Linked DNA regions of Homo sapiens. The protein of the gene in region 1 interacts with the protein of each later gene in a pairwise test. Each region holds a gene or a part of one and is shown on either strand. Other genes may lie near its edges. The genes, in order: ARMC9 and NDUFAF2.

What was found.
Region 2: the proteins of ARMC9 (region 1) and NDUFAF2 interact in binary tests that used the Homo sapiens proteins (3 or more experiments, as listed by UniProt).

What each region holds. Positions count from the first base shown.
Region 1 is NC_000002.12:231,199,999-231,213,991, forward strand, and holds part of ARMC9 (lisH domain-containing protein ARMC9), read left to right. Parts: intron 1-6,199; 5' UTR 6,200-6,240; coding exon 6,241-6,291; intron 6,292-8,128; coding exon 8,129-8,254; intron 8,255-13,993. UniProt on the Homo sapiens protein: Involved in ciliogenesis. It is required for appropriate acetylation and polyglutamylation of ciliary microtubules, and regulation of cilium length. Acts as a positive regulator of hedgehog (Hh)signaling.
Region 2 is NC_000005.10:61,137,589-61,154,106, forward strand, and holds the end of NDUFAF2 (NADH dehydrogenase [ubiquinone] 1 alpha subcomplex assembly factor 2), read left to right. Parts: intron 1-15,115; coding exon 15,116-15,367; 3' UTR 15,368-15,438; downstream 15,439-16,518. UniProt on the Homo sapiens protein: Acts as a molecular chaperone for mitochondrial complex I assembly. Complex I functions in the transfer of electrons from NADH to the respiratory chain. The immediate electron acceptor for the enzyme is believed to be ubiquinone.

The DNA.
Region 1 (13,993 bases):
ATTCTGTAATTTCTAAGAATGTTGAGTAATAGGATACCCAGCAGCACTCACATTCAATGACAGTTGATCACAGCAGATACTATTTAAACGGCTTAGGGAGGTCTACTCTAAGGAGGTGATGTTTATTAGGCACAGTGGTTAACCAGGTGAAGAGAGGGAAGAGTGTTCTAGGCGGAGAGAGTAATATGCGCAAAGGCCTTGAGGTTGGCCTCAAGGTTTCAAATTCTCAGAAACTCACTTTTCCCGTTCCAGGGCCTTTAAAATGACATCCCCTCAGCTCCGGCTTCATTTATTCATTATATGCCTTGAGTACCTTTCTTGCTTACTAGACACTCTGTTAGGTTCTGGGGATATGAAGTTGAAATACAGCTCCCTGTCTTTGTGAACAGGGTTATAAGAAGTGCCAGGTGCAGTGGCTCATGCCTGTAATCCCTGCACTTTGGGTGGGTGAATCGCTTGAGGTCAGGAGTTCAAGACCAGCCTGGCCAACCTGGTGAAACCCTGTCTCTACTAAAAATACAAAAATTAGCTGGGCGTTGGTGGCGGACGCCTGTAATCCCATATACTTGGGAGGCTGAGGCAGGAGAATCACTTGAACCTGGGAGGCAGAGGTTGCAGTGAGCCAGATTGCACCTTTGCACTCCAGCCTGGGCGGCAAAAGTGAAACTCCATCTCAAAACAACAAAATTAGCTGGGCGTCATGGCGCATGCCTATAACCCCAGCTACTTGGGAGGCTGAGGTGGGAGAATCACTTGAACCCAGGAGGTGGAGGTTGCAGTGAGCCGAGATCCCGCCACTGCACTCCAGCCTGGGCAACAGAGCTAAACTCCATCTCAGAAAAAGAAAAAAAAAAAAAAGCCTTGGTAGGGAAAGAAGGGAGGGGTTTTTCATGGAAGACTTCTTGAAAAGAGATTAAATCTGGCTTGGCTTAGAATCATGAGTCATGTTTGCCTGGGGGGGCAGAGCATACATCAACCACAGGCTTAGGATCCTGGAAGAGCTTGTTGCATGGGGGAATGGCCAGGAGTTCGCTGTTGGCAGGGTCCAGTGTGGGATTGGTGGAAGGGAGCAAGGAGAGGGATCAGGTAGGGGGAGGTGGATGGATTGGAGGCATGGTCCAGAAAAAGGCTGGAGAGGTGGGTGTCCCCCAGGAGCAGCTGCCTTTCTTCTCTCCCCTTTTGCATCTGGCAGGGCTGGTGTGGTGCATGGGGAGGTGTCCTCCCTGCTCCTCATTACTGCTTCCAGATCACTACCCACTCCTTCACAAACCCCAGCTCCTTTGAAGCACATGGCAGATGCCATACCCCTTGCCAGCCCTCCCTGAGGTAGCCACTTCCCAGGGCAAGTCTCTCCAGTTCCCTTGGAGCCTCCAGCACCCGGCTGGCTGCCTATCCCTTCATCTCTTTTACTTCACTTTTGGGGGTTTCCACATCCTGGCCCCTCCAGTTTCTTCATCCTCCTTACTTGCAGGCGTCTCTTTCCTCCATCCTCCTCATCTGCCCACTCCCGTGGTCGGGAGCTTTTTAGTACTAGTCACCTTCAAAGTCTTGCCTTCAGGCATCTGTCCCACTCTCTGCCCACTCCTTTCCATCTTTCACACTCACTGGAATGTGCCTCCTTCAGCAGGTCTCAGACCCCACTGCTTCCTCACTGCTCTGCAGCCGCCTTATGTGTGTTCCCCTCCCCCATTCTTAACCTGATTAGTTCCAGTGTCCCATCGTGGTTGTACTGTTTTCCCTTTCCTCTCTCTTCTAGAAGAACCTCTCACATTGGTTAACCTAACTCAGATAGCTGAAAGTGCCTGGAGAAGAGCTGCAAAACTGTGCAGACTGATTCCATTTTAGATTCAAGTGCAGAGATCTTAAATGGACTATAATACCAGCAACCCTGCCATGTTGCTGTAGTCGCTTTGGTTCCCACCCTCCCTTCCGTTCCCACTCTCCCTTCTCTTCGAACTGTCACCATGCTTCTTACTTGCAGCCGATGACCTTTTTTCTTTCTTTCTTTTTTTTTTTTTTTTGACAGAGTCTCACTCTGTTGCCCAGGATGGAGTGCAATGGCACGATCTCGGCTCATTGCAACCTCCACTTCCTGGGTTCAAGCGATTCTCCTGCCTCAGCTTCCAGAGTAGCTGGGATTACAGGTGCCTGCCACCACACCCGGCTAATTTTTGTATTTTTAGTAGAGATGGGGTTTTACCATGCTGGTCAGGCTGGTCTTGAACTCCCAGCATCAGGCGATCTGCCTGCCTTGGCCTCCCAAAGTGCTGGGATTACAGGCGTGAGCCACCGTGCCCAGCTGATCTTGTTTCTTGTTTCACTTTTTTTTTTTTTTTTTTTTTGAGACAGGGTCTTACTTTGTCACCTAGGCTGGAGTGCCATGGCGTGATCCCGGCTCACTACAGCCTTGACCTTCCTGGTTCAAGTGATCCTCCTGTCTCATCCTCCCCAGTAGCTGGGATTACAGGCACACACCACCACACCCAGCTAATTTTTGTATTTCTGTAGAGATGAGGTTTCACCACGTTGCCCAGGCTGGTCTCGAACTCATGAGCTCAAGTGATCTGCCTGCCTTGGTGTCCCAAAGTGCCAAGATTACAGGTGTGAGCCACTGCACCCAGCCTGTTTCACTTCTAATCACTAAATCTGTGTCTTTGCTCAGCACCCATATTCTCTGCTATCCCTCTGAATGCCGTTCCTGCTTCTCCCTTAAACTCCAGGCTCATATATCTGTAAGAATTAAAGAAAGAGGAGAGAAACACGAAGGGTGACTTGACAGTCAACAGGTTTGTTTCCTGGGTAACGGCCAAACTTCACCCTCTTACAATGGGCCTCAGTATAACAGTGGGCCTTAATAAGGACATTCTGTTCCCTTCAGGTGCACTAAGGGAAGCTAAAAGCAGACTTGGGGGGTATGCCTGCAGCTGCAGAAAGTTGTATAGGAACAGACACACAACTCTCCCTCCCAGATAAGCACAACAGAGAGACACAGAAACAGTTCAAGCCTTTGATAAACTCTCCCACCCTGAATCCTTAAAAACTCTTAGTCTGTAGGAGAGTGTGGCTCTGACCTAACTCGGTCGGAAGTCCCTCCCAGGTTTGAAATAAACCTGTTGACTGTCGAGCCACCCTTCGTGTTTCTCTCCTCTCTCCTCTTTCTTTGGTTCTTACAATACCCACTGACCATTTCGGAACCTCCACTGGAATGTCTAACAGGCAGCTCAGACTTATAGCCAAAACAGAGCTCTTGGTTTGACCTCAAAACAGTCCTTCCCCAGGTTTTCGTTGACTCAGCAAATCACATACTCTTCGGCCAGCTGCTCAGATCCCAGGGTTCTTCCTTCCCTTCTTCCCCTCATGTCCCACAACTAACTGGTCTGCAGATTGTGCCTCTTCTGCCTTTTCCATCTGGACTCACAGCGCTCATGGCCCCTCTTGCTTATCCAAATGATGCTCATGGCTGGCGTGGCCTGAGCAGTACTCATCTCCCTCTTCCCACTCCCCTCCAGTCTTCTCTGTAGAGCAGGCAACATGCATATTAAAAAATGGACATCAGCAGCCGGGCGTGGTGGCTCACCCCTGTAATCCCAGCACTTTGGGAGGCAGAGGAGGGAGGATTGAGCCCAGGAGTTCAAGACCAGCCTGAGCAATGGTGAAATCCTGTCTCTGAAAAAACCAAGGCTGGGCGTGGTGGCTCATGCCTGTAATCCCAGCACTTTGGGAGGCCGAGGCAGGTGGATCACCTGAGGTCAGGAGTTCGAGACCAGCCTGGCCAACGTGGTAAAACCCCGTCTCTACTAAAAATACAAAAATTAGCTAGGCATGGTGGCGGGTGCCTGTAATCCCAGCTACTCGGGAGGCTGAAGCAGGAGAATTGCTGGAACCCCGGAGGTGGAGGTTGCAGTGAGCCAAGATTGTGCCATTCTACTCCAGCCCAAGCAACAACAGCGAGACTCTGTCTCAAAAACAAACAAACAAAAAAAAACCTCACCAAAAACCAAACAAATGAAAAAACCAGAAAACAAAAGACTTGGGGCATAGTGGCACACTCTGTAGGCCCAGCTACTCAGGAGGCTGAGGTGGGAGGACTGCTTGAGTCCAGGAGTTTGAGGCTGCAGTGAGCTATGATCATGTCACTGCACTCTAGCCTGGGCAACAGAGGGAAACTCTGTCTCAGGAAAAAAAAAAAAAAAAAAAAAGGACATCAGTGGTGTCAGTCCCCTCCTCCATACTCTCTCTGAGCCTCCTGTTACTGTCAGCCTAATGTCCAAGCCACTTACCAGCTCTGTAAGGCCCACCTGACCTGGCCCCGGCCCCCCATTGCCTGCTGCTGTCTGCCTCACCCCTAGCTACATCCCAATACCCCAAGACTGCAGAGCTCTTCAGCCTGAGGCCTGTGCACTAACAAAGCCATCTTCCCCAGATCCAGGTGCTCAATCTTTGCTGAAATGTCACATTCCCAGTGAGGCCATCAACCACTCTATCTAAAATAACCCCATACCCGTCTCCTTCAGGTTCTGTCCCTTTCCTTGCGCTGTTTTCTTCATGTCTGGAATCAATTTCCACTCCGTCCATGTTTTTGAGCCTGTACTGTGTGCCAGGCACTGGTCTAGGCACAGGGGAACACCTGTCAGGTGCTGTTGAGAAAAATCAAGCAGTACAAAGGGCTGAGAAGTGATGGGCCGACCTCTTAGAAAGGGTGGTCAGGGCAAGACTCTCTGAGGAGGTGACAGTTAGGCAGAGACCTGAATGAGACGTATCTGAAGGAAGGGCAGTGAGCCAGAGTTCACGAGGGCAGGCGTGTGCTTTGGGTGTTCAGTGGGTGTCCACAGGAACCACACAGTGGCCAGTGTGGCTCAGGTTTACAGAACAAATGGGAGTGTGTCAGAGGCCAAGTTGTCTAGGGCTTTGGGAGTTGAGCCTAAGGAGCCTGGCCTTCATCTGGAGGGCGCTGGAACCACAGGAGGGTCCCAAGCAGGAGGGGAATGCTCACTTGTTAAAAGTGTAGAAATTGGATTGAAGTGGAGAGAAAGGAGGTGGGGAGGCAGTGGCAGAAAAATGTAAGGTTACAGACTCAGAAGAGATCTGACTGAGTGTGGTGGCTCACGCCTATAATCCCAGCATTTTGGGAGGCCAAGGCGGGAGGATTGCATTACCCAGGAGTTTGGCAGCTTAGTAAGACCCTGTCTCCCTGTCTCTACTTAAAAAAAAAAAAAAAAAAATTACCTGGGTATGGTGGCATGCACCTATAGTTCTAGCCACTGGGGAGGCTGAGGAGGGAGGATCCCTTGAACCCAGGAGTTTTAGCTTGCAGTGAGCTATGATTGCACCATTGCACTCCATCCTGGGCAACGGAGTGAGATCCCATCTCAAAAAAAAAATTCGATGAGTTCTGACACATTCTGAATTTTATAGATGAAGAAAGGCTCTGCACTTCAGTGAGTTGTCTCAGATCAGGTGCCAGTGAATGGCATGGTTAACATTAGAGCCCAGACCTTTTCATTCCTCTGGGGTTACGGGCAACTGCTTTGGGCTGAGCCTGGGGTGTGGGCCATGGGGAATGACTGCTTTGGGTACACCTTGAGGGAGGGCTAGTAGAAAGAGTAGGAAGAGTTTCTTTTGACTTTAGCCATTGTATTTCCTAGTGCCGCTGAACAAATGACCATAAACTGAGTGGTGTCAAGCAACAAAGATTTAATATCTTCTAGTTCTGGAGGTCAGAAGTCTGAAATGGCTTTCACTGAGCTGAAGTCAAGGTGTCTGCAGTGCTGGATCATTTCTGGATGCAGTGGGAGGATCTATTCCTTGCCTTATGCAGTTTTTAGAGGCTCCTTACCCTCCTTGTCTTATGCCACTTTATCCCCTTTAAAGCCTGCAGTGGCTGTTGAGTCTTTCTCACATCTCATCATGCTGGCACTGACCCTCTTGCCTCCGTCTGCCCCCCTCCCTCTGCTGTGACTGCCTTGGGCCCACCTGGGTAATCCAGGATCATCCCCCAATTTAAAGGTCAGCTGATGAGCAACCTTAATTCCATCTGCACCTTAATTCCCCCTTGCCGTGTAACCTCACGTATTCACAGGTTCTGGGGATTGGCGCATGGATGTCTTTGGGGGCCATTATTCTGCTCACCACAACCACCTTTTTGTAGTTTCATAGGTGGTTGAAATGAAAGCTGTTGTCTTGTATTTTTGCCTTCTAGAGATTTTTGCTGTGAGAATTAATTACCAGTAACAGTTCAATATGGGGGACATTCTGGCTCATGAATCTGAATTACTTGGACTAGTGAAAGAGGTAGGTATATTATACAAAGCAGAGGTCACAGAGAAACAGATCTTGAAAACTTGTGTTTTAAAATGCAACAAACTATTTAGTGCCTTGTAATGTTTCTTCTATTGTTATGTTGGAGCTATTTTTCTATTATATAATATTCCATGTATTTACATTTTGGTTTTATAACTAAACAAATCTTAAAGCCACTTAAAAAGTCCCTTGAAAGAAAATTATAAAAGCAATACACGTCCACGGTAAAAGATTCAAGCACTACAGAAGTATAAAAAGGAAATTTCCCTCCCAGACTTTTTTCTATGTATAGTAAAAATATATTCACATGCCTGTAGTTTGTTTTACAGAATGGGATGATACATTGTTCTGTAGCTTGCTTTTTATCTGCCAACAATAATATAGCATGAACATCTGCCTATGATCGGCCCTAGACATTTGAATGCCATAGAGTATTTCATTGAGTGGCTGCATCATAATTTTTTTAACTCATTGTCTGGTAATGGCCTAGGTTTCCTACGCTAAAAGCTTTGACAAGTAGGGCCCAGGCCTTAAACTTTCTGGTGCTAAAGAAATGGTTCGCGCTTGCTGCTGCTTAACTGTGTGAGTAACCACCTGCAGGTTGCGAGAGCCACGGGCCTGGAGCAGGGATGAGGCACCCACCGTGCAACTGCAGATTTGGAATTTGGTGGTGTGATGGCGAATATATTCTTTTTTAAAAAATTTACATTTAAAAATCTTTTTAGAGACAAGGTCTTGTTCTGCCGCCTAGGCTGGAGTGCAGTGGCATCATCATGGTTCACTGTAGCCTTGAACTCCTGGGCTCAAGCAATCTGCCTGCCTCAGCCTCCTGGGTAGCTGAGACTACAGACGTGCACCACCATGCTCAGCTAGGTTTTATTCTAATTTTTGTAGAGATAGGATCTCACTCTGTTGTCCAAGCTGGTCTTGAACTCTTGGCTTCAAGCAATCCTCCTGCCTCAGCCTCCCAAAGTTGTGGGATTGCAGGCATGAGCCACTGCACCCTACCTATATAACACATTTTCTTTTAAAAATTTATTTATTTGAGATGGGGTCTCGCTTTGTTGCCCAGGCTGGTCTCAAAGTCCTAGGCTCAAGCGATCCTCCTACCTCAGCCTCCCAAAGTGTTGGGATTACAGGCATGAGCCATGCCACCTGGCCTATACCATTTTTTCTTTTTTTTTTCTTTTTTTTTGAGATGGAGTCTCACTCTGTCGCCCAGGCAGGAGTACAGTGGTGCTTTCTCTGCTCACTGCAACCTCCACCTCCTGGGCTCAAGCGATTCTCCTGCCTCAGCCTCCCGAGTAGCTGGGACTACAGGCACGCGCCACTGCGCCTGGCTAATTTTTGTATTTTCAGTAGAGACGGGGTTTCACCTTGCTGGCCAGGCTGGTCTCGAATTCCTGACCTCGTGATCCACCCGCCTTGGCCTCCCAAAGTGCTGGGATTACAGGCTTGAGTCACGGCTCCTGGCCGGTAGTTCTATTTTTATTTTTTTGAGGAACCTCCATACAGTTTTCTATAATGGCCGTACCAATTTACAGTCTCACCAAGAGTGCACAAGTGTTTCCTTTTCTCCACATCCTTGCCAAGACTTTTTATCTTTCGTCTTTTTTGTAATAGCCATTCTGACAGGTGTGAGGTAATTAGGTCTCTGTGGTTTTGATTTGCATTTCTCTGATTGTTAGTGATGTTAAGCACCTTTTCATGTATCTGTTGGTCTTTTTAATGTCTTCTTTGGATAAATATCTATTCAGATCCTTTGGCTGTTTTTTAATTGGATTATTTGTTTGTTTTGCTGTTGAATTGAATTATTTATTTTTTATAGTATTTAGATTTTGCTGAATTTGAAGACACCTTGAAAACATTTTCAAAAGAATGCAAAATAAAAGGAAAACCATTGTGTAAAACAGTAGGCGGATCTTTCAGAGACTCCAAATCATTGACAATTCAGGTAACATTTTGCTTATTTTTCATCCCTGTAGATAATTCAGGATGCTCCCAACTTGTGGAAAATGCTGCTGTTGGATAGTGCTAGAATAGTTTTTGAGCACTTGCTCAGAGTTACTTTAGATGGCACAAGTGTTTATAGATGAACTAATAATGTCATTTTAAATCTCTGTACCCTCCCCAGGAAATGTGTGGCCATATAAGATCTTTCACAAACATTTCTTGGGAAGAAGGAAAAGAAGAAACCATGCAGTGTTTAGGAACTGAGACAATTGTAGCCTTCCTCCTGAGGAGTTTCAGGTTATTAATTCTAGGCACTGGGGATCCAGCAGTGAACAAACAAAATCCAGCCCCTTGCCAGCACAGCATTTGCATTCTAGCTTGGGGAGGTTGGAGGGAACAGGGAGCAAGAGTGAGACTGACAAGGCGGGTCTGTGAAAGGAAGTCTGAATAGCTCTGTGAATACCAGTGGGCTGCAGGGGCACAGAGGTTATACAGACCTCAACTCTCAGGGTTAGAAGGGACCTTAAAAATCCTTGACTAGGCATGGTGGCTGAATCCTGTAATCCCAGCACTTTGGGAGGCTGAGGCAGGAGGACCGCATAAACCCAGGAGTTCAAGACCAGCCTGTGCAACACAGTAGGACCTCGTTTCTTTTTCTTTTTTTTTGAGATGGAGTCTCTCGCTCTGTCGCCCAGGCTGGAGTGCGGTGGTACGATCTCGGCTCATCACCACCTCTGCCTCCAGGATTCAAGCGATTCTCCTGCCTCACCCTCCCTAGTAGCTAGGATTACAGGCACGTGCTACTGCGTCTGGCTAATTTTTGTATTTTTAGTAGAGACGGGGTTTCACTACATTGGCCAGGCTAGTCTTGAACTCCTGACCTCAAGTGATCCGCCCGCCTTGGCCTCCCAAAAGTGCTGAGGTTACAGATGTGAGCCACCATGCCCAGCCAGAACCTCGTTTCTATAAAAAATAAAAAATTGGCCGAGCATGGTGGCATGCACCTGTAGTCCCAGCTACTTAGGTGGCTGAGGTAGGAGGATCACTTGAGCCTGGGAAATCAAGGCTGCATTGAGCCATGATCATACTGCTGCACTCCAGCTGTAGTGACAGAGTGAGACCCTGTCTCCAAAAAAATTAAAAAGTCATTATTTTAACCATTATTTGATGTCTAAATCTCATTTGTAATATGCCAGGTAAGTAATCAGTTCACCTAGAATATTTCCATTGACTAGAGACTGTACCATTTCCTGAGACAGCATGTTTCACATTTGGATGATTTTATTATTTATTTATGTATTTGAGACGGAGTTGCGCTCTGTTGCCCAGGCTGGAGTGCAGTGGCAGGATCTTGGCTTACTGCAACCCCCGCCTCCTGGGTTCAAGCGATTCTCCTGCCTCAGCCTCCCAAGTAGCTGGGATTACAGGCACACACCATCATGCCCAGCTGGTTTTAGTATTTTTATTGGAGATAGGGTTTCACCAGGTTGGCCAGGCTGGTCTCAAACTCCTGACCTTTGGTGATCCACCCGCCTCAGCCTTCCAAAGTGCTGGGATTACAGATGTGGCCACCACACCTGGTCTATTTTATTTTTATAATTAAAAAAAATTATGTGGAGACAGGGTCTTGCTGTGTTTCCCAGGCTGGTCTCAAACTCCCAATCTCAAGTGATCTTCCTGCCTCAACCTCCCAAAGCACTGGGATTATAGGCATGAGCCACTGCACCTGGCCTTATTATTTTAACAGATTTTTAAATTTTAACATACCTACTTCCAGAAATAATTTTAGGCTTGGCTTGCAAGCCCCTTGAGTGGCTGGAGTTCAAGTGGTATTCACTGCTGGTTTTCTCCTAGTCCTTGACTCCCCAGTGGCCTGGCATGGGCGCTGTTGAGAGAGGGGCACTTTTGAAGTGGCCCGTGGAGCTCAAGGCAGGGCTGAACCCTCTGCCTGCTCCGCTTCAGGCCTCTGGCCCCTGGATGCTGAGCTGCTGCTGCTTCCTGTCAACACAGACTCTTCTGTGGATGCTACAGCAGCCAGACCTCCCTGGCACCCCCCACACCTAGAACGATATGTTCAGAACATAAAAGAATATAGTCATTAGTAGAGGTGAAAACAGGTTCTTAGAGTGAAGTGTGTTCCTCAGGAAATCAGCTTCACTCCCCAGCACCTGGCTTCCCTGGTTCTTTCTGGATGAAGAAAGACCTTTACCCTACACGTTGGAAGTATAGGTGAGCATCTCTTAATTAAAGCTACCATTTGAGAGGAATATAGCAAATCCTCAATACCTAACTAGCAGAACAGTGAGACTCTTTTGTGAAGTTCACACATGACCAGATGATGTGATGATACAGGGTAAGGCCAACAGGCCCTGTGCCTTGAAGCTTCTTTGCATATCGGTCCCTCCAGAGGTGGCTGCTGTACACTTTCCGCAACTGGTTTGCCATCGCATTTCAGCTCCAGCTGCATCTGAGAACACTCAAATGTCTCTTTAGGTCTTTTTAAAAAATTGTGATTAAAGATAACATAAAATGTATCATGTTAACTATTCTTATGTGTACAGTTCAGTAGTGTTAAATGTGTTCACATTGTTGTGAAACAGATCTCTAGAATTTTTCATCTTACAAACCTGAAACTCTGTCCCCATTTAACAACTCCGCCTTTATCCTCCCCCTAGGCCTTGGCAGCCACTATTCTACTTTCTGTCTATGAATTGGCTACTTTAGATATGTCATATAAATGGAATTATGCAGTATTCGTCTTTCTGTAATTGGCTTATTTCACTCAGCATAATGTCGTCAAAGTTCATTCATGTTGCAATGTATGACAAGATTTCCTTTCCTTTTAAAGGCTGAATAATAATCTGTGATATATATTCACAAACACATACACACACACACACACACACACCCCCACAGTTTATCTGTTCTTCTGTTGATGGACACTTGGGTTGCTTCCACCTCTTGGCTATTAAGAATAGTGCTGTTGGGGCTGGGCGTGGTGGCTCATGCCTGTAATCCCAGCACTTTGGGAGGCCGAGGTGGGCAGATCACCTGAGGTCAGGAGTTCAAGCCCAGCCTGACCAACATGGTGAAACCCCGCCTCTACTAAAAAAAAAAAAAAAATACAAAAATTAGCGGGGCATAGTGGCAGGCACCTGTAATCCCAGCTACTTGGGAGGCTGAGGCAGGAGAATCACTTGAACCTGGGAGGCAGAGGTTGCAGTGAGCCAAGATCACACCATTGCACTCCAGCCTGGGGTAAAAAAGTGAGACTTTGTCTCAAAAAAAAAAAAATAGTGCTGCAGTGAACGTGGGTGTGCAAGTATCTCTTTAAGGCCTTGCTTTCTGTTCTTTTGGATGTATACCCAGAAGTATTGCTGGATCATATGGTAGTTCTATTTTTAATTTTTTGAGGAATTGCCAAGCTGTTTTACAAAGTGGTTATACTATTTTCCATTCCCACCAGCAGTACATAAGCGTTCCAGTTTCTCTACATCCTTGCCAATGCTTGTTATTTTCTCTGTGTGTTTTTAAAATATTCACCATTTTGATGGGTTTGAAGTGATATCTTGTCATAGTTTTGATTTGTATTTCTCTGATGTCTTCAGGTCTATTTTTATATAACTTCAAAGACCTTGAAACTTTCTGATTGTCACAAGCATATCTTTTCTGCTCATCCAGTCAACAGCTGTGTCCCCCACTATGGTAGATTTCCCAAATGAAAAATGCCTGGGTTGAATGAAGAAGAGTGGGGAAAAAATTTAGAAAGAAAAATAAAAAAAATATGTAGAACTGAGGTTCAGCAAAATATGCTAATTGTTAGTGGAACTCAAAAAATAGTGAGTTTCCCCAAGCAGTTTTATGTGTATAGTTCAGTAGTGTTACGTATGTTTACATTGTTGTGAGATATAAGAAGCGTGTGTGTCTACAAGTTACTATTGATGGTGTACACATTTTCTCATCTTGTTGATTCTGCTTTGATCATGGTTTATAGAACATCACTAATATTTTGTGACTGTAAGTTATAATAGCAGATTCTTTTATGTGTGGGTATTATTTTAAGCTCAGGGACCATTTCCAGGTACAGAATGTGATTCATGAGTTAGGAAGAATGATAGATGTGATTGTAATGACATAGCAAAGGTTTGTGGTTTCAGGTCTACAAATATAGACCTTAGAACAAACTGTAGATGGGCCATTTGACTTGTGGACTCTGCCAAGCCACATTGATAAAATAACTTTTCTTTAAGCCATAACGTTTCACAAGAGTCTGCGCTCACCTCATCCACACAGTCAGAGAGCTCTTGGTCACCGCACTTCTCATGGCAAGGCCCCCTCAGGAATGGGCACTGGGTTTGCTTGGGACCTTGGCAGAGGCAAGCATGGGGCTGAGCCTGGCCCCACAGCACTGCCCCTGGGAGGATCCCTTCACCTTTGTGGCAGTCATTAACAAGCATGCAGGTCTCTGGTCAGCTTCCCCAAATTCTTCCAAGGGGTGCCTGCATTCAGCTGCTTGTGCTTTGTTTTGGCAACCCTCACCCACAGGCGCTAACACACTGTCCCTCGCCTGTGTCCGGGAGGAACAGAAGAGCCAGCCTTGAGGAGGTAGATGCTCATTGTAGGGCTTATTTGAAAAATTCTGAGTTTACTTGAAATGTAACTGGCACCTTCCAGCGTAAGGCAGTATTCAGAGACAGTTCTTGATTACATGACATAGTGAAATTTTTGTAATATTCAGATTTGAGGATTCCTTACCAATCAACATCTTTGACTTATGTGTAACCAAACACTGTTACATTATTTGTTCTCTATACATTTCCATTTTATGTTAGAAAATTTGCTTATAAACAGATAAAACAAGTAATTTTTAAAAATGACAATTATGCAGGAAAATTATCTGTAAACGTTTTTTCTTTTTTTTTTTTTTTCTGAGACAGGGTCTCATTCTGTTGCTTAGGCTGAAATCCAGTGGTGGGATCTCAGCTCAGTGCAGCCTCTACCTCCAAGGCTCAGATGGTCCTCCCACCTCAGCCTCCCGGGTAGCTGGGACTACAGGCACATGTCACCACACCCAGCTAATTTTTGTACTTTTTGTAGAGACAGGGTTTCACCATGTTGTCCAGGCTCGTCTTGAGCTCCTGGGCAAACGATCTGCCCACTTTGGCCTTCCAAAGTGCTGGGATTACAGGTGTGAGCTACCACGCCCGGCCATGTAAACTCACTTTTTTGGTTTTTTTTTTTTTGAGATGGAGTCTCGCTCTGTTGCCCAGGCTGGAGTGCAGTGGCGCAATCTCGGCTCACCCCAACCTCCGCCTCCCGGGTTCAAGCAATTCTCCTGCCTCAGCCTCCAGAGTAGCTGAGATTATAGGCATGCACCACCATGCCCGGCTAATTTTTGTATTTTTAGTGGAGACAGGGTTTCATCATGTTGATCAGGCTGGTCTCGAACTCCTGACCTTGTGATCCACCTGCCTTGGCCTCCCGAAGTGCTGGGATTACAGGTGTGAGCCATCTCACCCATAAACTCATTTTTAGAAGTATAAAAGAACAATGGCCAATAATGGTGGTAAATAACAATGGTATTGGGTGGGGAAGTGGGGATTCTGTAGAAAATCCAATCTCAGAAACGCTGTTGCAGTTGAGCGTAAAATGTAAGTACAAATATCTTGGGCATTCGATACAAAAAGAACAGTAGCAACTGCATTGTTTTGGACTCTTAAGAAGTTCTTTGACTTCTGCC
Region 2 (16,518 bases), on another chromosome or scaffold:
AAAAAGACTTTCCAGCAGAGAGCTAAAAGAGGCCAAGTGAAATACAGTGTGTTTAAAGAACAAAGAAGCTAGTGAGGTTGAAGTATAATAACCAAAGCAGAAAATGACATGAAATGAGATTGGAGAGGTCGGCAGCAATTGGGTCATTTGGAGCCTTGTTGTGTTCTTCAGAAGCAGACATTGAGATAAAAGGTATTTATTAGGCATCCTTATGAAAGGAAGAGGAAGAAAATAGGAATGGACAGAGGACAAAGTCGAAATGTGATGTAGGCCCAACAAAGCTTCAGCCAATTTAGTAGGAAGCTCTGGAGCAAGTATTGCCCATCAGAGTCTTTGTACATCTGGTTGAAATAGCTGGGCCTTTATGGCCCTGCCTGCCTGCCTTATTCAGTTACTGGATGTGGGCTGCTCTGGAAAACCATTAGAAAGGTGGCTACAAGCTGTGGCACATGCTAAAATTGTTGACAGCTGCAGACTGTCTGCTCACAGCATTCACTGCAGCTGGGAAGCAAGTCCTTCCTTGAAGAAGGGCTTATCCAAATATCTCCATATTTGCCACAGGCAAGTTTGGATTTTGTTGCAAGGACCCATTTAAAGGGTTGTTAGTGAGAAGTGGCATGAAAGGTCACTCTGATTTCTATGTGGACATTAGATCATAGAGGACCAAGGAGACTTATTAGGAGTCCAAGCAAGAAATGCTATTGGCCATAGAGATAAAGAGAAATGCACAATTCAAGATAAATTTTGAAGGAAGAATTGATAAAATTTAGTGCTAGGTAAATGTAGGAGGTAAAGAAAAATAGGAATCATTTAAGTAAATGTATACAGTTGCGTAAGGGAAGGTGATTTAGCTGCTGCTGGCTAAAGTGCTTCTTCCCACCATGAGGACATCCCAGTAACAGCCTCCTCCCCCCCAGATCGTGCCCACTGGTGTGCATTTGATATGTCACAGAGACTACTTTGAGAGTATAGTAATTAACTTTTAGGACTTCCGGTTAGCTGGAAGGCTCCTCTCTATGTTCATGAAGTAGGGTGTTGCCTTGGAGCTTGCTTTTATCTTAGCATGTGAGGAAAGGGAGACCAGGCCCTATTGAAACAAGGCAAACCTTCTAGGGGTCAGGGAAACACTGTAGTCAGGCAGCAGGATACCTGTATGCAAAGCCATGTGTGTGGCTTGCTGAGAACTGTGCAAAGAGTAATAAGTAGTAGAAGGAAAATATGGTGGAGGCAGAAACTTGTTTCAAGTGTAGTCTAATTGTATGGCCTTAAGTTAGCCCTCTGAGCCTAAGGCATCTTTGGACATATTTAATTTAACATGTTTGTTAGACATCCACCTCCACCCAGATAGTTGGCTATATTATTCTGGAGCTTGGGGAGCAGTCAGGCTTGAAATGAATTTGAGCTTCTTCAGCATATGTAGACAATATTTAAACTTGGGATAAGAAATGATTACTTTGAGAGAGAATACAGATACTCCTTAACTTACCATGAGGTTATATCCCGATAAACCCATTGTTAAATCAAAAATACATTTAATACACCTAACTTACCAAATTCATAGCTTAGCCTAGTCGACCTTAAACCTGCTCAGGACACTTACATTAGCCTGCAGTTGGGCAAAATCATCTAGTAACACAGTACACTGTAGAGTGTGGATTGTCTACCCTTGTGATCAAAGTGATGACTGGGAGCTGCTGCTCAATGCCACCACCTAGCATGATGAGAAGGTATTGTATGGCATATCACTAGCCTGGGAAGAGATCAGAATTCAGAATTTGAAAATACAGTTTCAACTGAAGGCATGTCGCTTTTGCACTGTCATAAGTTGAATCATTGTAAGTCAGGGACCGTCTGTATAGTAAAAAAGAGGGCTAGAATTGAGTCCTTGAAGCATTTCAGTGTTCTGAAGTTTGGCCAAGAAGGAGCTAACAGTTTGATAAAAAGATATTTGGATATTTTACAGACAACTTAAATTTGGTATGTTTAAAGCAGAACTCTTTTTCTGTTTCCTACCATGGTTAATGGCATTATCTGTTGATAGCGACAGGAGGCAGCCAAATGCCTAGGCTAATAGGGGCGGGTCCCTGGTGAAACCCCACCTTCAAGCCAAAAACAGCCTGGAGGCTGAAAGACCAGGCTGCTGGTCCCAGATGAAACCTGCAACCCAGAGTGAGAACTTATGTTCCTGTTTGCCTGCCCTTTCCTGATTAATTTTTTTTGAATAATGCCTTTTAACAATTGAATGTTGCCTTTTCCAATACTCCCTACAGCCTGTCCCTTTCCCATTCTGAGCCCATAAAAGGCTCCTGACTCAGCCATATTAGGGGTACTTTCCCACTTTCGGATAGGGGGACCACCCCTACATCCCCTCTCCACTGAAAGCTGTTTCATCACTCAGGAAAACTCCCTGCCTTGTACACTCTTCGAATGTTAGCACATCCTCATTCTTCTTAGGTGCAGGACAAGAACTCAGGAACCAGTGTGTAAGCCAGACTTGGCCCAAGTGGGCCGAGTAGGTGGGCTGTCTCCTGCAGCAGGTAGCGTGGTCAAGCAAGGCCTGGGCAGGGCATCGCCAGCCAGAGTTCCTCAGCTTGCAAAGTGTCACTGTCATCACTGATTAGAAACAGGGATTGTCCTCATCTCCTTCACCTCTACATATTGGTGACTAAGACCTTTTTCCTATTGAATATCTTAACAATCTTTTTTTGTCTGTCTCAATACCATTGTCTTGGTTCCTGCCCTAATGATTTTCTTACTTGCATTTCTGCAGTGGCCTGCTATCCGATTTCTCTGTTCCAGTCTTGCACCTCTCCAATCTAATTTCTATAGTTGCCAGAGTCATCTTTTTTAAAATATGGGATAAACATATAAGTCTCCTGCTTATGGTTGCCAGATTTAGCAAACAAAAATACAGCATACCCAGTTAAATTTTAATTTCAGATGAACAAGGGATAATTTTACATGTATGTCCCATATAATTTTTAGGACATAAATACTAAATTATTTGATGTTTGTATGAAATTCAAATTTAACTGAGCATCCTGCATTTTATCTGGAAATCTTGCTCTTCCTTCAGAGCCCAAAAATGTTTCACCATCACTTTCAGGGTGAAACCTAAATATCCTAACACTGCATTACAAGATTCAGCATGTTCTAACCCCTGTATACCATATGAACCACTCAGTGTCCTGAATTTGCTTTGCTGCTTTACTCCTTCATACCTCTGATCACATGCTTACTTTTTCCTAGAATGCCCCTCTCTTCTTAGTTCTCTGGTTGATTCTGATTGATTGTTTAATACTGAAGTATCACCTTCTCTAACCCTCCAGTCCACTCTGGATAATAACTGGGACACCAGGGCTGGGTGTGGTGGCTCACGCCTGTAATCCCAGCACTTTGGGAGGCCAAGGCGGGCGGATCACCTGAGATAGGAGTTGGAGACCAGGCTGACCAACATGGAGAAACCCCCTCTCTACTAAAAATACAAAATTAGCCGGACGTGGTGGCACATGCCTGTAATCCCAGCTACTCTGAAGGCTGAGGCAGGAGAATCACTTGAACCTGGGAGGCGGAGGTTAAAGTGAGCCAAGATCACACCATTGCACTCCAGCCTGGGCAAAAACAGCGAAACTCCGTCTCAAAAAAAAAAAAATTAATTAATAATAATAATAATAATTGGGACACTAGCTTTTCTTCTGCATTCTCATAACATTCTTTGTTTTATATGATTGCAGAATTTATCATATTATAATTTAATTTTTTTAAACCTGCCTCTCTTCCTTAGATTGTGAGTTCTTTGAGCACAGGGTAAAAGTTGTGTCTTTTAACTCAATCCTTGGCACTTAGTGGGCTCTCAGTTAATATATGCATGAACCAATCAGTTAGTGAATGGGAAAGTAGGAAAGGACCCATAAGCATTAGCCACATAATTGGCCATTGGAGCTTACCCAGCTCTTCCCTATGGTACCTCCTTTGACCATCCTCTTTGTTCCTCAAAGATGCTTCATAAGAATAGGAACTAGGTTTTAATCTCTGTATCCCTAGGCCCTTAAATTGTAGGTGCTCAGTATATATTAAATGAATGAATGAATGAATGAATGAATGAAAAACACATGAATGAATAAGTATATCTTTCAGGGCCACAGCTCCTGTTGTCCCCTGCAACAAGTCCTAGAGGGTGCTGCCTCTGACCATATTTTTTATTCTCTAGGGCAGGCTCTATATAGCCTAAGTTGTAGCTTCTTTATGTCTTACTTCTTCTCATCCAACTCTTCTTCCCTCTCTCATCCTAGGCCAGAAGAATTCTTTTCCCCCGACAGCAGCTGGCACATAACAGCTCAATGAATGTTAGCAATCATTCACAGATGGAGCCTTTTCTTTCCTCCAGGGCTCTTGCCTTTCTGCCATTTCTTTCTCTCTCTCTGAGGCCAAGCCTGGAAAGCCATGGGGATCTGACATTGCTTTTTCTCCCAGGGATTATGGTCTTTCCTCTTCCCACACAAGGGAGCAAGGTTTTCTTTGTCTCCCACCAGGGTAGTTCAATTAAATAGGACTAGCATTAAGTGACTCTAATTATTTTTTATTAATGTTTAACTGCTAAATTTCTTTTTCAATTAAATAATTGTGTCTTTATGCTTAGAGGCCCTTTTTGCGTATATATGGGAGTTCATTTATTTTAGTAAAGGAAATACCACCTGAAAAACTGTTAATGACTTGAGCTCTGTGATTAGTTCATTTTAGTGACATTTTGAGATTTAATAATTAATCTGGCTCAGGTTCAAAGAAAGAAAACTTAATGCCAGAAATTCCTAGCCAGCAAAGAATATAAACAAACCATACAATTGTCCCCTCAAATAACAGGAATCATTGAGATAGCCTTCTTGCAATTAGAAATGTTTTGAAAAAATGCATGAGGAAGGTTCAAGAAAGCATGTCAAAACAACAAAACTCAGTGTACATTCTCATTATTGTAATTGATCAAAGGATGTTTGCAATAGATTTGAATTTGAATAAATTAAATGTGACATTGATTTGGCAGAGGCGTACTAGTGATTGGCAAGAACATGTAGCAGGAGCAGCTTCTGCTAAAGCATAACTCACTTGCCTCTTGTTTTATTCTAATAGATTTCTTAGCAACCCAGTACTATCATACTAACCTAAGCTCTGTCACTTATTTACTCTTTGGGTTTCTACTCCCATCCAGGCAAGATTAAATTTATTTTTGATTACTGATCTAGCAGGTGTTCTCTTGGGCCTAAATACAGAATACCTTTTGGTGATCTATGCACCTCCCTCTTTTTTCTTCTTTCTTTCGTAGATGAAAAAGGGTGATCTAATAACTTATTTCATCCTGGCAGTTCAACTTGTAGAACTAGAAAATGTAGTTTAATTAAACAACTTGGCAATAAAATTCGAGCTGAGACATCACTATAGCATTTGCTAGGCTTGAATTGTTTCTCAGCATGTTACAAAATTAACACTGTAAAAGAATATTCAACTCTGAACGTTTTGAAACAACAAATTCCCATTATAATTTTATAATTATATTGAGGATTGGGGGCTGTGTGGTATATTCTGGGAGGCTACTTTCTGGGCATGACTATCTAATAGTAAACAAATGTTACTGGTATGGGGTCCCAAAACATACTTCATGCCAAATTTCACTTATAATCTACATAAATCGTTTTGTAGTCTATGAAAAACATTTTAATTGACTCAAAGGCAATGTACTCATACTTTAAAAATTTTAATATTTATTAAAATAAAAATTATTCACTAGTATATATGGTTTAAATTATGGAAAGAAATTAGTGGAGCTGTCAAGGTCAAATTTATGTCTGGTAAGCAGTAAAAAATGTATGCATTTGGGTATATTTAGTAATTGAAATACTTTTACATCTTTATCTTATGTGTACTTTGAAAAGTATGTCTAGCTCCAATAGATATTAAAGATATATGTACATTTAGCTTTTGTCACAAATGTACCGCTAATGTATAATTTTAAATTATAACTTTTTATAAATCCGGTTTCTCATTTTTTATATGTAATATAACTTGAACTTCATAAATAAGCTATGGTTTTGTTCCCACAGAAGACTGAAAAAGAACCCAGTTACATGGGCCTAAGACTGACTCCTGAGCCTTAACTTGCTCTTGAAAATAGTGAACTTTCTAACAATGAAGCACTGTTGAATTTATTTTAAATTATATTTAGATTTTGTCTTGGCATGTGTTTTGAACTTCAGTTTGAACATAGTTATATATGATATACTTGGAATTCACAAGTACTTGAAGCTAAATGGAGACCATTTATAAATACTAAACTTTAGAGGAGCCTGGAGCCAGAACATTAAAGATGAAATGGCATATTTTTGTGTGTGTGTGTGTGTGTGTGTGTGTGTGTGTGTGTGTGTGTGTGTGTTCAACCTGCCTTTTTTCTACCTGGATTCATAACATTTTTAAAGCAAAGTTCTAATTCCCTAATAAAGGGCTGAGCATTAACTCTATTCCATTTCCATGTCTATCAATATAAAAATTATTCAAATACTTTTGAAGTCTATTATTATGGAATTTTATGCTTACCATGAATATTACACCATCAGCATCATATATATGTACATATAAGGTATTACTGAAACACTCCTTCATAGAAGAATTCTCAGTTGACTAGGTTTGAGCCTTTTAAGGAGAAAAATTGGGCTAAGGGATTGAAATCTTGAATGATGGTTTGAAAACAGTTATTCATTTTTATTTATACACACATTACACACAACATAAAAAATACTAGTGACATTTTACATATCTTAAATTAATAAAAATGGGTAATTTATAATTTGCATAATTTGTATTTACCTTTTCTTGTTAAGTATATGTATAATAACAGATAATATTCCTAAAAAATATTTTGTATATATACTTAGATCTGCATCTAAATATTTGATTCCATTTAATAGTATAGACTGAGGAATGTTCACTCCCACACCTCTGGTCTGAGTGTGGCTCCAGAGAAGCAGAATGGTGGATACCTGAGGTTGAAAACTCTTTGGGTAACCTTTGAACCTATTCAGATATCTCTCAGCCCTTCCCTTTCCCCAATACTCATCAAGTAATCTAAACTTATCTTCCAGTCATGATAACTTCATCAGAGAGCACTGGTCATCAGCTCTTAGCCTTCCCTCAGATATTAGAGTGCATTTCCAAAGCCCAGGTTTAAATAGCTTTAGTTTTCTTTCTCTCTCCCAACACATCATTGCAGAGACCTCTAGTATTTTTCTACCATTTGTTTTACCTCCTCTTTATAATTCAAATATCCACGCATGTTATCTAATAACTTCCATAGCAGTAAGTGTATATTAAAGCTGAATTCCTTGCCTTTATGGAAAGTTAATGTATAGTAGGATTTTGCATGAGGGACTGTATGATTGGAGCAGAATAACTACTTATTATATCATGCCTAATATCTGTGAGTGAGCTATAAGTCAGCATGTTAGTAGATTCCATATTTAAGCTTTGTTTTTTAAAAAAACAAACTTTAAATCTCTTTTGTCATTACTACACATAGCAAGTTGCAGCATTGAATGCAACAATAATACAGCTACCAAAAGGGCTCTTAACCAGGGCTCTTAGCAAAGTAACAGCATTGGAAAGGACTTGAGCCACAACCTTTTGGGGGCTTAAGTTCACATCACTGAGTAAATGAATAGTGCACTATAAATAACCATTAACTACATTACAAAAACAATGATGAGCTTGTTAAAGGCATTTAGATCTTTTCGCTTTTTCTCTTTTTTAATCTAATCCTTCACAAACAATGATAATTTATATTAAATTTTGACCAGAAAAATATATAAATTCAAACATTAAATACATGCAAGTTGAGCAGCTCAAATTCGAAATCCAGATTGCTCCAAAATCCAAAACTTTTTGAGCACTATTAAGGCATTCAAAGGATTTGGGGATACTTAACTGGTAAGTAAAAAGCAAATATTCCAAGATCCAAAAAATTCCAAAATCCCAAACACTTCTGTTCCTAAGCATTTCAGATAAGGGATACTTACCCTATAACAACATAAACAACTCAAGCCTAAACTAATTTGCTCCAGCTGAACACCCCTGAAATGAGAGAGATGCTCACAGAACATTGGTCATTCATAACATATACATTTAAGGAAAGTTTTGACACACCGATTTTGATACAGCTCATGCCTTTTTTTAATTTGTCAGTATGGTTTCTTTCTCTTCTTCCCTGAGATTGGTGGAGAATGATATTCTTCAATATTTCACTCCAGGAGACTCTTTAAATGACCCTTTTAGAAGGGGTTGACCTCATGCATGACTCTCAATTGTCAACTCCATGAGGTTCTGCTTCAGGTGGACAAGAAGGCCATTGTTGATACACTGCTCTATATCCCTAGTCAGGGGAGCCAAGACAGTGGTATAAAACATGGAAGCTTTGGTGACTAGAGACTTTTTGTTGATGGGAATAAGGAGGTAATAAGGCAGAGTGTTGCTAATTTGAGGGCTGCACGTGGTAACAACAGCCCTTTTGTCTCAGGCTGTGCGTCTCCTGAACCAGGTTCACAAAGCTTGAGAAGTTTGCTTGGCAGTATAGTCATCACTGGCCTCAAAATCCGTATTGGTATTTTCAATGGACAGTGTAACAATGCTTCTCATGTGCTCAGGGAACTTAGATTTGGTGGACGTAGAGTTTTAGGGTATCCAGCACCTGGCAGAGTGTCCAAACCTCTGGTGTTTTTCCTCTGCAATGAAGTCCTTCATTCTGATCATTTCCAGTGCTATTTATTCTACAAGGTTTCCATCTTGTATCATTTTCCTTCAGTTGAAGTATGTCCTTTAATTTTTCTTATAGTAGATATTTGTGACAAATTCAGCTTTTGTCTGAAAATGTTCTTATAATACCTTCATTTTTAAGATGTTTTCACTGGATATAGGATTCTAAGTTGTTTCTGATGAGAACTCAGTGTTATTTCTTATCTTTGTCTTTTGTATAAGTGTCTTTTTTCCTGTGTCTAGTTTTAAGATTTTATCATTAGTATTTAGCAATTTGATTTGGATGTGCCTTGGTTTTATGATTATCCTGCTTGGGGTTGTTGAGCTTCTTAGATCTGTGAATTTATATTTAGTCATTATTTTCTCTTCTCCTTCCATGACCACATGTATATCAGACTGCATAGTATTGTCCAATAGCTCACTGAGGCTCTGTTCATTTTTTAGCCCTTTTTTAAAACTCTCTCTTGCTTCAGTTTATGTATTTTCCATTGTCTTATATTCAGATTCACTGTTCTTCTACAAAGAAGCACTCAATTTTTTTATTTCATAGGTTGTTTTTCACCTTGAAGTTATATTTGGTTCTTTATAACAGTTCCCATTTCTTTCCTCATGTTGATTTTTTTTCTTTAATTCTTTAGACATTTTTATAGTAATTGTGATAAAGTCCTTGTCTGTTGATTTCATCATTTCTATCATGTGTAGGTCTACTTCTGTTGACTGGTTTTTAGTCATCCTTTCGTCTTCACCTCTTGATTACATGATGAACATTGAAATATTATGTTTAGTATCTCAGTTGTGTTGTCTTCCTTTAAAAAATACTGAGTTTTGTTCTGGAGGGCCATTAATTGACATGTGAACCAGCCCAAACTTTTGGAAGCTTTTTTTTTTGAGACAGGGTCTCACTCTGTTGCCCAGGCTGGAGTGCAGTGGTGTGATCTTGGCTCACTGCAGCTTTGACCTCCTGGGCTCAAGTGATCCTCCCACTTCAGCCTCCCGAGTAGCTGGGACCACAGCTGCATGCCACCAGGCCTGGCTAATTTTTGTATTTTTTTTTCTTTCTTTTTTTTTTTTTTTTTGTAGCAACAGGGTTTCACCATGTTGTCCAGGCTGGTCATGAACTCCTGGACTCAAGAAATCCACCCACCTCAGCCTCCCAACGTGCTAGGATTACAGGCGTGAGCCACCACGTACGGCTAGAATCTTACTTTTAAGTTTTGTTAGAGTAGATCTAGAGCAGTGCAGTCCAATCCAAATTTTTGCAATGATGGAAATGTTTTATAACTGTACTTTCCAATATAGTGGCCATTAGTCATATTTGGCTATGAAATACTTGAAATGTGGCTAGTATAATTCAGTAACTGAATTTTTTATTTAATTTAAATGGTATGTGGCTAGTGCCTACTGTATTGTACAGCATAGGTCTCCAATAAGCTGTACTCTCGTGCCAGTTTAGTCCTACACCTAAGGAGTGACCCTTCCGGGATCTTTACAATGTCTCAGGTGTTCAACGAGCTCTCCCTGGCTGGTTAGAACTTGACTTTTTCCTAGTCCAGTGCAAGCTCCAGCAATTTTCAGCCTATAGTTCCCCAGTATTCTTTAGTGAGAAGTTGTCCTTCCTGCTTTATGGAGTTTCACCGCGCACATGGACAGCTTAATATTCAGCTGAACACTCAAGTGGGTTACTATGCAGATTTCTAAAACTTACTCTGTGTATTCTGGTACTCCGCCTAACATATCCCAGCATATTCCAGCTTTCTCAGGCTCCCTAAACAACCATCTCTATCTCTCCATAAACCACCATCCTCTGGTTGGGTTCCCCCACCCTGTGTAGCAACCAGTAATGTGTCTCCAGCCAGAAAGCTGGGATGATATAGGGTTTATCTAATTTGTTACTCATTGATGCCCTTCAGGGATCACACTACTGTGCTGCCTATTGTCCAGTATCTGAAAAATGTATTTTTGTCCAGTTTTCTAGTGGTGCCATGGCAGGAGGACTAGCCTGGTACCAGTTATTCCATCTTTTGTCTGAAACTAGTAGATTACCTCTTACTAACATCTCTACCCATTTCAGAGAGAGATGTGTACAAGTTTGCTATGTTTATTTTTTAATAGAATGAAATCACTATTTTAAGATATATTTGTACCTTCTGTTGTACTATCACTGCCCAGTAGCCAGTTCTTTCCCAACCTTTACAACAGCCCATTGAAGAAGACAACATTATCTCCATTTCACACAACATGAAAGTGAGACACAGGGAAGTTAAATAATATTCATAGAGTCACACAGCTGGTAAATGGTAAAACTGGGATTTGTATTCAGTGGTCTGGCTTCAGAGCCCAAATTCTATGCCACTATTGAGAAACATTCAGTGAATAACAATGTGAAGAGTATACATATGAGTAATTTGAGGTATAAATATTTATACTTACATAGTCACATATAAACAAGATTCAATTTTTAAATCAATAATGTTTGGCTTACATTAGAATATGGAAAAATCTGTAATCTGCATAAACTTTTCAATCTTTAAGGGAACTCTAGAGGTTACTTAAGGGGAACAAAAGGAAGATACTTCCATTTGGTATTGTTGGTTTATTCATTTATTTTTTGAGACAGAGTCTTGCTCTGTCACCCAGGCTGGAGTGCAGTGGCGTGATCTCAGCTCACTGCAACCTCCACCTCCCAGGTTCAAGCGATTCTCATGCCTCAGCCTCCAGAGTAGCTGGGATTACAGGAGTACACCACCACACCTGGCTAATTTGTGTATTTTTAGTAGAGACAGGGTTTTGCCATGTTGGCCAGGCTGGTATCAAACTCCTGACCTCAAGTGATCTGCCCGCTTTGACCTCCCAGAGCGCTGGGATTACAGTCGTGAGCCACCACACTGGCCCATTTGGCATTGTTTTATAAAAGCTTACTCACCTTGTAATACATAACTATCTTAGGAAACATAATACTGTTATGAGTATAAGCCCCATTTTCAGATAAACTGAGACTAAAAAAGTTAAGTAGCTTTCTTGGTGTCACACGGCTAGCAAATGGTAGATTTGGGATTGGAACCCTGTCTGAGTCAAAGAATTACCCATGTGGATTGTCACCACAGTGTTATTTTTTTTAATGAAGAAGTGAAATATTGGAAGCAACAGTAGAGGTAGTTGTTAAGTAAATCATGGTACAATACTAGTGATAAAATAACATTCAGCCATCTTTTTTTTAAATGTTAAAGAAAAATATTTATTGGCAACAAGATAAATAAGTAAAATGATGAATATTTGTTTTTAAAATACAAACATTTATGTGAAGAAAGATGCCCGTTCCTGCTTTATCCTTACACAAACACTGAAACATACTGTTATTTGATAAACGTATGGAGATATAGGGTGATATTGTTCCAAGGAATTGGAAGGAAAAATACTTGCTTTTTGGTAGTTTGTATTTGCAAATAGACTTTCTTAAAAGTCCTTAAGGTCTACAATTCCTATCCTGTTTTCTCCACCTAACTACTTTCTTATCAATTCCAAATATTTTCATTGTTGTTGTTTGGGGGTTTTTTTGTTTTGTTTTATTTGAGATGGAGTCTTGCTCTGTCACCTAGGTTGGAGTGCCGTGGTACAATCTCAGCTCACTGCAACCTCCACCTCCCAGGTTCAAGTGATTCTCCTGCCTCTCAGCCTCCCGAGTAGCTGGGACTACAGGCATGTGCCACAATGCACAGCTAATTTTTGTATTTTTAGTAGAGACAGGGTTTTCCCATGTTGGCCAGGCTGGTGTTGAACTCTTGGCCTCAAGTGATCTGCCCGCCTCGGCCTCCCAAAGTGCTAGGATTACAGGCATGAGCCACAGAACCTGGCCCTTCAATTCCAAATATTTACAAGACCGTATTTCCTTTCATAAATGATTTATGTTCTGTTTAATTTTGCCTGGTACCAGTTATGTTTTTGGTACCAGTTTTGTTTTTTCAGAAAAACAAAAGGAAATTCTTTTTTAGGAAAAACTATAGTCTCCATATTTTTTAACTCTGAAATCTTTAACCATCTTCATATATAAAAATAATTAATATATTCAGATTGGCTTTTCTTTTGCCTCAATAGCTATTATAAGAAAGTCTTAGAAGAGTAATGTTGAATAAAGAGAAATTATGTGAAGGCAGGAGAAACAAGAACAGATCTTTGCCCTCCATTTTCTTTTCATCAAAAAGCATATGCATGTACCAACTGTAAGACTGCAACTATAGAGGTGACATAAATAAAGTAGGCAGGGGCACAGCTTCAGGTGACATGACTGATCTATTATACAAAATCCAAGCAAGCTCCATACCAATTTCTGAGTATCCTCTTGCTGCTTGAGGTCGGTTACTAGTGGAAGTTTAACCTGGTCCTGAACTTTTCATTCCGCTCCAAAGAACGAACTTCCATTAAGACACAGGGACTTGAATTTTTGTCTACTTCCACTATTTCCAGTATGATATTGAGGAATTTCCTTTGTGATACATCATCACCTTATATAAGAATTCTAGAGGGTATAGGAAGAAGAAAACCTGATTTCTCTACTCTCACCCTCACTTGGAGCAACCATACAGAACTCGCTTACTGTGGTGATTAAACTACTCATGGGGAATTGCTATGTGTTGTGAAAATTACAAGAATATTTATAAATATTGTTCTTTCCTGCACATATTTGCTTTGAGGGAGAAGTTTCATTAGATGGGCCCTTCTTCACATCTAAAACTAAGTCTTAACACTAAAACCACAAAAACTTTTCCCCCTTTAAGTACAAACTATTATTTTAAATGTTACTTTAATATCAGAGCTTACCTTTTTAAAGGACTATACAATCAATATTACTTGAAATTCACTTGAGAAACAGAAAGGTGATATCATACATTTAGATATCCAGATGTTGCCCTTTAAGTGACATTTTTTGAAAGTTTTGAAATTTTAAAAATACTTGACAGAACTTTTTTTTTTTTGGTCAGTGTTGTCAGATATTAGTTACATTAACATTCTAATTTCACATTACAAATAACATATTCTTAAAAATTAGATAATACAGGTAAGCAAAAAGAACATTAAAAAATTTCACACATTTAGAAATGCATTGTAAAATCAGAAGGAATGGACCAGGCGTGGTGGCTCATGCCTGTAATCCCAGCACTTTGGGAGGCTGAGGCGGGCAGATCACCTGAGGTCAGGAGTTCGAGACCAGCCTGACCAACATGGAGAAACCCCGTTTCTACTAAAAATACAAAATTAGCTGGGTGTGGTGGCACATGCCTGTAATCCCAGCTACTCGGGAGGCTGAGGCAGGAGAATCACTTGAACCTGGAAGGTGGAGATTGCGGTGAGCCGAGGTTGCGGTAAGCCGAGATCACACCATTGTACTCCAGCCTGGGCAACAAGAGCAAAACTCCGTCTCAAAAAAACAAAAAAAAACCAAAACAAACAACAACAACAACAAAACACAGAAGGAATGAATAAAGACCAAAGATGTAATTACTGTATTGCATTTATTTTTAAGATACGTATCTTTTCAAATATTAATATCTCTGAAACTATGTGTGGAATTTGCCTTTCTTAATGCTATAGTGATGCTTCTTAAATGTGATGGTCTTTTATTCAAGGAAATACAGTAACAAAGGATTGATTGTAATTTTGGGTATAGATCCTCCTAGATAGAATTCTGAGGAACAGAACTGCATTGTACAATCTGTTTGCACAGATTTGAGAAAGTATTTCCAATAGCAAAGAACCTCTCTGCAACAGTGTCTAGGGCATGCCAAACCCTGATTCCATTCCTATCCTCCTCCTTTCCTGCCATACCACTCCAGAAGAGAAAGGGAAATATTAATAGATGAGGCTTGGTTCTGGTACTACAGAGGGTGACGTTAGCATTCACACATCTGAATGGCAAAGAAAAAAAAAAAAGGGTAGTCAGAGCACTTCTTTCTCACCAGTGGAAAAGTACAGTCACTGAGTTTTAGGGCAGAAATCAGTGTTAAGCTTAGGAAATCTTTCATAGAGTGTCTCAGGCTTCTGTGTAATATTTCACATTTGTTTGTTTCATTTTTTGAGTAGTAAATATTTCTACTGTGGGGTGCTTCATGTCTATTATAGCATAAAATCAGGACAGAACTGTTTATGTAACATTAGTATGTAATCATACAGCTTTTTCAAACTTATATACATATCTGTATATTATTTAAATGCAAAGTATGTATGTATATATTTATATGTATATAATGTATTTTATTTTTATTGGCTATTTTTATAAAAACTTTTTTTAACTAGAAATTTAATAATTTCTTCCATTTATATATACATGCAGGAAATACTAAAGAATGAAAAACACAGAGAAGAAATCAAAATAAAAAGCCAAGATTTTTATGAAAAAGAAAAACTCCTTAGTAAAGAGACCAGTGAGGAACTCCTGCCTCCACCAGTTCAAACTCAAATTAAAGGCCATGCCTCTGCTCCATACTTTGGAAAGGAAGAACCCTCAGTGGCTCCCAGCAGCACTGGTAAAACCTTTCAGCCAGGATCCTGGATGCCACGAGATGGCAAGAGCCACAATCAATGAATGCATTATGGTCAAATCTTTTCATGTATATGGATGTGACTATTTTAACAAATAAAAGAAGTGAAAAGTTATTTACCTTGTATTTTCTGAATGTACAATAGTTTCCTATTCTATTAATCTTGAGTTCATTTTTAGTATGCACAAGAAATGTGAGATTATGTACTGTAGAAACCTAACTTCTTTTAGACTTAAATCCTTCATTTGACTTAGTCATTGTTATTTATGAATTTGCTTAGATTTGTTTTTCCCTCTTTGGATTACTCCCTTGAGAAGGATCCTGTAGCTGTGAATGCTTAGTACATTTTGGATCTTTATGATCATTTGGGAACCACTCATAGATAGAACTGGGTACAAATAATGAGGGTAAATATTTTTCCCTCTTTGGATTACTCCCTTGAGAAGGATCCTGTAGCTGTGAATGCTTAGTACATTTTGGATCTCTATGATCATTTGGGAACCACTCATAGATAGAACTGGGTACAAATAATGAGGGTAAAATAGTGAGCTCTCCCAACTGATCAAATATAGGAGAAAAAAGAATGAAGATTCTTATTTCTGGAGAGGTGACCTGTAAGATTCTAAAAGACTAATCAAAAATGTGAACTTGGATAAAACATGTAGAGGCAAAGAAAACTTAGTTGATAAGTGAAAAAAACCACTAAGACCTTGATGAGAGGATGGGACAAAAGCTAGCTTATGGTGGGACTCTGGTTGGAATTTGAAGAGAGGAATTAGGACCAATAGAAGTATACAATCCATAACAAAGTCTGAAAGGACAGTAGAGAAAGAAATAATGCAATAACTGGAGTTCCATGAGAACGAAAATTACTTTGAAAAAATAGAAAATTGGGGAAAGCTCTCAAAAAGCAGAAATTAATTTCACTAGAAGACAGAAGACAATGTACATGTTAAAACATTACATACAAAAGTACATTAAAGGGCCACACATTTTCTGGAGTGTACAACCAAGTTTTTGTTGTTATTCTAAAAGTTTTTCTCACAATGTTTGGCATACAATAGATGCTCAATATTTGCTGAACGAATGACCCAAATGTGTGTGTGTGTGTGTGTGTGTGTGTGTGTGTGTGTGTGATTACAAATGCTTTTCTTTTGTATTTTTTTATTATTATACTTTAAGTTCTAGGGTACAT